3 separate regions of the Homo sapiens genome follow, and regions 1 and 3 are each linked to region 2. Evidence: fine-mapped expression QTL. A gene starts in region 2. Each other region holds a variant in brackets. All regions are shown on one strand. Distances are from middle to middle.

Region 1 (2,767 bases), 33 kb before region 2:
AGAAATTATCATGTCCATGTCTAAAGAAGTAAAAATAAGGCTCAGGAAGATGAGGAACTCAACCAGTGTTACTCAGAGAATGAAAGTAGAATCAGAGATGGAGTCTGTCTACCCCAAGCGCCTTGCTGCGAGTCTCATAAGGTAGCAGAATAGAAGCAAGGGGGCTGTGAAGAAAGTTTGCAGCCTGATATAAAAGCTGTCAATTTCAGGCCAAGAAGTGTGAACTGTAACCTAGGTGATCATGGCTTCTTGAGCAACACACATGGTAGGTCTGAGCTACATAATCTTGATCTGCTGGGTACAGACTCATTAGAGAAGTGAAGAGAGAAGTCCCTTCTAGCTACAGAAAGTCTCCCTGTTCTTCTCCTTTTCCTGCCTCTCCTTTGCTCCCTAAACCCTGTACTTCACTCTCCCACTGTCAGTTTGTGCCTCTTTCTGTCTCACTGCTCTTCCCTCTTTCCTCTCTCTTTCTTGCATGGTGTCCTGTTAATCCTGATCCCAGCTCCCAGCCCCACTACCTTAGGGAATATCCAACCTCATGGGACACCCATTCCTCAGTCCCACGCTGAACCCAGAATCAGTGGGTCCTGAAGGTCAGAAAGTAGAGCAGAGACACTGGCTTTCCTGAAAAGGCCACTCCAGAGCCTGCCTGTCTGCTCTCAGAGCCCGCTCTGCCTCCATCCAGAGAACGCATGTGCACACACCATGCTGGGGCCCAGCCACCTCCCAGCTTCTCCAACTTTTAGGTCTTATCCTTTCTGAGTTTAGCATCTCTATGGGAAAAAAGGCTTTAGGAGTTCATTCAGTCTGGAGAATAGGCAATGATTTCTGTCTCTGAGTGGTGGAGCACATTTCAGGGCATAGGCAGACTGCCAGGCTAGAGTGATCAGAGATGGTTGCAAAGCCCCTTTGCCTGTAAGCATGACTCATGGCCATGAGACATTCTCATACTGTCATAGAAACTGGAATTTCTACTAAGAGAATTATATTGATATTAACAAAGGGAAGGGTATCAACTCCAAAAGCCCTCGT[TGTA/A]CTGCATTAAATTACGTAGGGACTTTCTCCGCCCGCCTCCCCCAGCATTGTCTCTGCTGCGGTGCATTGACACATTCATTCTTTCCCTCTCTGAGTGGCATGGTAGCATCCATCAGGACTGTGTTTGCATCACTAGGGCTCCTCGCTAGCATGGAGGCCCTGGTTTTCCACTGGAGCCCATCAGCATGGACTTTGCCATTAGCACCCTAGCACCTGTGCCTCCCACTGACAAGTTCACCACCTCATGGAAAGAGCAGCAGCCTGGGGGTCAGGAGATGAAGGTTGGGGGCATGATGCTTGTTTTATGGTTAAAGTGAGGATTGCGGGAGGTGACTTAAGTTCTCTTCCCACATCAACATCCAAAGTTCTCTGATATTTCTGACCTTACCCAGTGAGCACGAAACTCTACTCACCCATTAGCACAGGCTGGCCAAATGACCCATCAACAGAGACTCAGTTCTCAGAGAGCTGTGGGAACACAGCTGAACTGCACAGGGCTGGTTCTGAGGACCTGTGATCCCTAATGGAGACCATACCTGGTGACCAGACCAGGAGAGTGACAATGCCAACCCTGGGAGGTGAGGAGTAGAGTGCCCTGTCCAGGGAGCTATGTTCGTAAAAGCCCGAAGTTCTGGGGTCTGACCCCTGAGATTCCACACAGTGTTGACTTGCAGAGACTGAGGGGCCAGTATGTCAGCTTTGTCCCCCTCTTGGTGCAAAATAACCAAGGAGGCAGGTTGTGCTGAGAGACATGGGCACTCAGCCCCCCTTTCTTCATGTTCCAATCCCTATCTCACCTTACCACAAACCATACTGTTCCCCTGAAAGCCCCTGGTTTCTGACCTATTCCTCAATATCATGGGGGAGCAAAGCGTGCCCAGGAGGGTCAGGACAGGAAGAAAAGGCCTCAAGAGTCAGGATCGCCTCCATCCCAAGGGCTTTGCACTTAGGTTTGGACAATGTCTCCTCATAGTTTCAGTTCTTCCTTTGCTTTGGCAATGCAGCATTTTTCTTAAACCAGTGTTACCTGCCATTTGTAGAAGTTTGTACCTCTTTATTATACAGTGTAGAGGTTTTTGTTCATGTGCCTCTCAGCATGTCCCCAGGAGGTCTGTGGTCTACAACTGATGTGAGCCCATTTCCCAGAACCTTCTCAAGATATGAAAGCAAGACTGTTTATTGTAAATTTACCTGTGAATGCAGCAACACTACTTCCTGTGGCTGCAACAGCCATTTTCTGTCTCACCTCCTCCATCTGTTATCTCAGCCTTCACATACAGTGTGGTTTCCACACAGGACAGAGTTAGAATTGGGGCCCATGTCCCCTCCCTACACATGGGATGTGCTCTGGATGGCTGGAAGGCCAGACTGGGATGAGGAGGAGTCTCTCCACGGACACCTTGCGGAATTGTGCTCAGGCCCCTCTGTAGACCCTCCCCAGGCTGGTGCTGACCCAAGGGTGACAGGAGAGTTATTCTCTGAGTCTGCAGACCCACACACGGCCTTATTCAGACAGACCCAACAATGACCATTTCTGACTTCCTCAGGAGTAGGCAAGATGACCACTTAGTTGAAGCAGGTGCCTCTGGCCTAACCTGCCATGCAGGAATCTGACAACTGAGTTCTGAAAGCCTAAACTGCTGACAGTTTTAGTTTTAGATTTGCTGCCTATTTGGAAGCAATGATAACCTACATTCTTTTTATTTTATTTCATTTTAAGTTTCAGGATACA
Region 2 (2,767 bases):
GAATGGCGTGAACCCAGGAGGTGGAACTTGCAGTGAGCCAAGACCGCACCACTGCACTCCAACCTGGGCGACAGAGCGAGACTCCGTCTCGAGAAAAAAAAAAAAAAAAGAATTAATCATGTTACACCAGGCGCGGTGGCTCACGCCCATAATCCCAACACTCTGGGAGGCCGAGGTGGGCAGATAACTTGAGGTCAGGAGTTTGAGACCAACCTGGCCAACATGGTAAAACCCCGTCTGTATTAAAAATACAAAATATTAGCCGGGTGTGCGGACGCCTGTAATTCCAGCTATTTGGGAGGCTGAGGCATGAGAATCGCTTGAACCTGGGAGGATGAGGTTGCAGTGAACTGAGATCACACCACTGCACTCCAGCCTGGGTGACAGGATGACATTCTGTCTCAAAAAAAAAAAATTAATTGTGTCAGGGTATTTACAGAATAATTTAAGTAGAACATTAAAAGATATATATATGTACACACACACATACTATGTAACAATTTTAATAAATACACCATGATTATCAACCAGAACAGAACCAAAGAAAATTAGAACTATTATAGTAGATTGAGTGGAATTTTTTTAGGGAATCTTAACATTTTAAAATCATGTGGTAACAATATCATCACCTATGCTCCTATGTTCTGAATTTCTTCCTTCAATGGCTTCCCTTTAGCCACAGTTATCAGATCTGTCAGTAAAGTCCTAGAAAACATGTTTTTGAGGATGCTGAGGTGTTTTCTCCCTTGGCCTGTGTTTAAAATATTGTTCTTCCCCCATAACAAGTGCTCTCTTTAATCCTACATTTTAGACATTCTTTTGTATTTTCCCTTTTCTTATAGTGCAGATCTTCTAGAAGCTGTAACAATTGTAATTACCAATGATTCATGCCTTAGAGGTAATGAGTGTCAGACCTTGTCCTGAGAGAAACTATTAAAGGAAGGAGAGGTTGGGGAAGAAAGGAGACAATGACTGTTTGCCCCAATACTGAGGCATAGAAGTTCCCTGGGGAAGAGGTGGGGTTCAGAAAAGAGAGATCAGGGAAAGTCACTCCTCCTGACACAAATCTTTCTGAGGCATCTGCCTCTTTTTAAGCTCTGAGTTCTAGTTATCCTGGCTCAGGATAAAAATAATCCCACCACTGGTATCCTCCCTTTTTCTACTTCCGAGGCTGCAAAGTGCAACAGCAGACTCTTCTGACTCAGGAAGGCCGGTGCTCCTACCCACTTCCTGTTCCTCCATCTCCAGCGGACACTGCTCTTTCAAGGGCAGGTCTCCAGCCCAGCTCTCTGAAAACATTTTGCTGAAAATATAAGCAAACATCGGCCTTGTCCTCCTTGTGTTCATACACTGTGGAAGCTTTTCTCTGCCTCCTCCGTGAGAGTGCGTGGCCGGGAGACCAGAAACGTGGTCCTTTCTCTTGCCTGTGAGCTGGTGCAGAGGTAAGTCTGAGTATTTGTGCGTGTCATATTTGGATGTGTATGTGTGGGTGTTTGTGTTGTACATGTGTGTTTACATGTTTGTATGTGTTAACATGAATGTGTGTGAGTGATGTTTGTGTGTGTGATGTTTGTGTTGTGTGTGTATGTGAGTGTTGTGTGTGTGTTGTGTATGTATATTTGTGTTTGTGTATGTGTTTGTGTGTTCACCTGCATGTGTGTGAGTGGTACATGTGTTTTGTGTATGTGTGTGTGTTGTGTATTTGTGTGTGCTGTGGTGTGTGCAGGTTTGTAATGTGATAAAAAGAGCTGTGACCAACACGTCTGGAGAACTTTTTGCCTTGTGACAAAGTCACTGTTTAATATTTGGCAAGATGCTTCTCTGAGTTTTGCTTTCTTCCAGAGCAATATGACAAGGATGGTACTATCTGTTCCATCTTCTGTGTTGGAGACAATGCACACTGTGGCCAACATGGGAGGTGCCATTCCGGGGAGGGTCTAGGAGGAGGCAGGGAGGTGCCTTGCGTGCAGACCCATTCCCCGAACCCTGCGAAGGCACAGTGCAGGTTCCTGCATGCCACAGCCTAGTCCCACCCGGCTGTTGTTTCCTGTTAAGCTGCCTGCCCGTTCTCTCTAAAGGAGGAATGAGATTACATTGGTAAAGTGCTGCCTCAATTTCCACCAGGGATGTAAGGAAGCCAGGGACAAAGAGATTGAGAGGCCACCAGTTAGGAAGAACTAACTCCCTTTGGTAGGTGAAATATTGTACTCCTTCCAGAATCTGGCTGTTCAGGTCTGAGTAAGGCTGTCCGCCTGGCCTGCTTCTTCTTTCTTCCTAGAAAGTCAACAGACCTTCCTGGACTCCCTCCATGCCCAGCCCAGCACTGCAAAATTGATCTTTACCAATCATAAAGCAATATCCGCATATATACTTCTGGGATCTGGGGAGGACTGGAGTGTTTGCCAGGTGAACAGAATAGAACAAACATCTAACAATGTGGCAATGAGAAAAACATGTCTATCAGGTTCCCCTGGACTTAGGTTTCCCCACACCCCAGACCCTTCATCTGGATCTGTTTCATCTGGTTGTGAATGTCCTACATGATCTGGAAAAACAGTCATGGACCATGCAACTTCCTCCTCAGTCCCACAGAGAAAATCCAGCAGAGAGAACCTTATGGGATCTTGGCACAGAGAACTGTGTTAGTCTATGAAGCCAGGACACATTGCTGTCATGGGAAAGGGGACAGGAGTTCCTGGTTGGGAATGATGTGGCCCTAATTTGCAAAAAGGACTAAGAATTGCTCTAAAAAATGTTATGAAGTATG
Region 3 (2,767 bases), 82 kb after region 2:
AGGTACCTGAGGGCTGCACTGCAAGCAGACACAGCCAGGCTGGAGCCCTGGGAATGGGCAGCAGACCAAGGGGTGCTCAGGTCAGATGGGCCCTGTCTCATAGGCAAGACCATCCTGTCAGATTTCAGGTCTGACAGTTTCCCTAGGGTTAAAGTCTTGTATGGGGGCAAGTGGAGCGTTGGGGAATGGGTGTCCCTGGCCACACTCCACTACAGACGCTTCCACACCAAACCCTCTGGGCTCCACACTGGCTGGAGTTCTGCCTCTACCACTTCAGTGAACAGCTCTCCCCGCCAACTCAAATGTCTAGTGGTCAAGGGGTTTCCTCCTGCTGGGATTCGAGAGGTCTATGGTGAGAGCAGGTTGCTCTTTGCCTGTTCAACTCACTCCACTACAGGAGTCGTGGGGGGCCAGGAACAAATCCTAGTGGGGGGCCAGGAACAAATCCTAGTATGTGATAGTCCCATGCAAGGTTCTGAGCTTACTCCCCCTTCATCTCAGCACCTGTGTCTTCCCTCCATCTGCTTTCAATGCTTTCCCTCTGAAGATCTGCTAGGAGTAAGCCAGTTTTCCTGATGTTTTCATCCCTTGGTGGCAGATATTCCTCCTGGCTGCATCTAGTTGGCCATCTTGAAGCAGGCAACCTTGAGCAAATGTTTTAAAACTTTGATATTTGACAAACTTTCCAAAATTGAAATTTTCAAATTCTAACTCAGCCTTTTTGACCTCAAACTAACTTTTTGGATATTAGAGCCCCTGGAAATCACAGACACATTAGGCTTATTTGATATGTTAAAATCACATGGAAATGATTGTCAAATATGAAATGGTGTTTAATTTTCTTTGGGTTATAGTTTTAGACATGCATTATTAATATATGTTCCAAAATTTATGAGATTTCTAAAATTCTGATGTCTTAATATGTTCTAGTAATTATTATGTCAAATTGTTGTATACCACAGAAATAGCCAAATTTTCTTGTCAGTTGAGTCTTTAACCATGGCTATTCTAAGACCTTTGTCATTCACATATAATTATTGTTTTACTTTGATTCTTCTCACAAAGTG[G/A]CTTTTAATTATTTTAGTTCAAAATTTGCTTCCTTAAGAATATTCATGGAAAGGCCTCTGACAAGTACTCTTGAATACAAGTTTCAGATAACTTTGGAGATCATATCATTGGACTAGGTAAAAACTTTCAGGACTGCAGTTAAAAGCTAGTGCATTTATGAGGATTGCTAACCCAACATCAGGCAGAACAATAATTACTTACACAAAACTGAACAAATAGAGGACTGAAATAATTTTATGACTTCCTTGGTTGTAACATTGCTAATTCTTTTTGTGTTCTGTTTTCCAGAGTCAAGAAAACTTTTTTCTTTTGAGCTATTTATAGCTTACAACAAATTGAGTGAAGTATACTATTATAAGCAAAAATGTGAAGGATTTATCTTTCTCTCTACCTGATTTCTTCAGAATTTAGAAACTATTTGTGAACATTCTTAATTTATGGCAATATAATTATTTATATAAGTTTAATAATAATCTGTTTTCTTTTATAACAGGAATCAATTGGAGACTTGTTATTTTACCGAGGCTGTGAGAGAAATGGCATATTTTCAGATATGTCCAGATTACTTTGAGGAATTAAGGTTGACTTTTTAGACCCGAAAGGAAGCCTCTTGGAAAGACTGGCCTGGCACTTTTTCTATGCAGTTGCTTTACAAGGTTCCTGACCTGTGGTCAGTAAAGAATGTCACTTTATGACAGGCCCAGAAATCTCAAGTTATTTTGGGACTTTGAGAAGAAACAACTTCACACAATTCGTATGGGTATCACAGGCAATCTGATAAATCCCTGACTTGAATAGCTTTGAGAGGCCTTTCAAATCAGAGATTCCTTATGAAAAGTTCAAACAAAGCCAATCAAAAAAGCAAAACGTTATTCTTGCTGCACTTTATGCAAATAATTAGACCACATTTAACCAGACTAAAATCTACTTTGCACACAAATTAGTTTTATTATAATTTGTATCTGGTACAAAAAGGGATCCAGAGAGAGAGAGAGAGAAAGAGAGAGAGAGAGAAAGAAGGAAAGAAAGAAAGAAAGAAAGAAGAAAGAAGGAAAGAAAGAAAGAAAGAAAGAAGAAGGAAAGAAAGAAAGAAAGAAAGAAAGAAAGAAAGAAAGAAAGAAAGAAAGAAAGAAAGAAATTGTATTTCAAAAGAAACCTATAACATACCTGTCATTAGATTCTAGCCTTGAACACTGTTTTTGGTTTTTATTATTTGACAACTCATTAAAGAAGAAAAAACTCATAATTTTCTTTTTTCTTTAAAGTATTTAATTATTTATTTATTTTTATTATACTTTAAGTTCTGGGATACATGTGCAGAACGTGCAGGTTTGTTACATAGGTATCCATACGCCATGGTGGTTTGCTGCACCTATCAACCTGTTGCCTACATTAGGTATTTCTCCTAATGCTATCCCTCCCCTTGCCCCCAACCTCCTGACAGGCCCCAGTGTGTGATGTTCCCCTCCCTGTGCCCATATGTTCTCATTGTGCAACTCCCACTTATGAGTGAGAATATGTGGTGTTTGGTTTTCTATTTCTCTGTTAGTTTGCTGAGAATGATAGTTTCCACTTTCATCCATGTCCCTGAAAAGACATGAATTCATTCTTTTTTATGGCTGCATACTATTCCAAGCATATATGTGCCTCATTTTCTTTATCCAGTCTATCATTGATGGGCCCTTGGGTTTGTTCCAAG

The links. PIP is the estimated chance that this variant, and not a neighbour inherited with it, causes the effect. A credible set is the group of variants that fine-mapping cannot tell apart.
Region 1: its variant is the best candidate, but not a certain one, in a credible set for the expression of GIMAP6 in whole blood (TOPMed, PIP 0.50).
Region 3: its variant is the best candidate, but not a certain one, in a credible set for the expression of GIMAP6 in whole blood (INTERVAL, PIP 0.89).

What each region holds. Positions count from the first base shown.
Region 1 is chr7:150,663,523-150,666,289 of GRCh38, reverse strand. All of the region lies in intron 2 of LOC124901774 (a long non-coding RNA gene), which reads left to right. Among named protein-coding and RNA genes, the nearest start is that of GIMAP2, 21 kb to the left of the region's middle. RefSeq lists an enhancer at 1,986-2,205. The variant TGTA/A (reference allele first, on the strand shown) is at 1,033.
Region 2 is chr7:150,630,844-150,633,610 of GRCh38, reverse strand. GIMAP6 (GTPase, IMAP family member 6) reads left to right here and starts at 1,226. Exons shown (of 3, transcript NM_024711.6): 1 at 1,226-1,442. RefSeq lists enhancers at 1,276-1,365, 1,376-1,465, 1,736-1,815.
Region 3 is chr7:150,548,372-150,551,138 of GRCh38, reverse strand. It overlaps LOC107986860 (endogenous retrovirus group K member 19 Env polyprotein-like), which reads left to right. Exons shown (of 2, transcript XM_017012936.2): 2 at 1,562-2,064. The coding sequence ends at 1,599. Among named protein-coding and RNA genes, the nearest start is that of GIMAP4, 18 kb to the left of the region's middle. The variant G/A (reference allele first, on the strand shown) is at 1,068.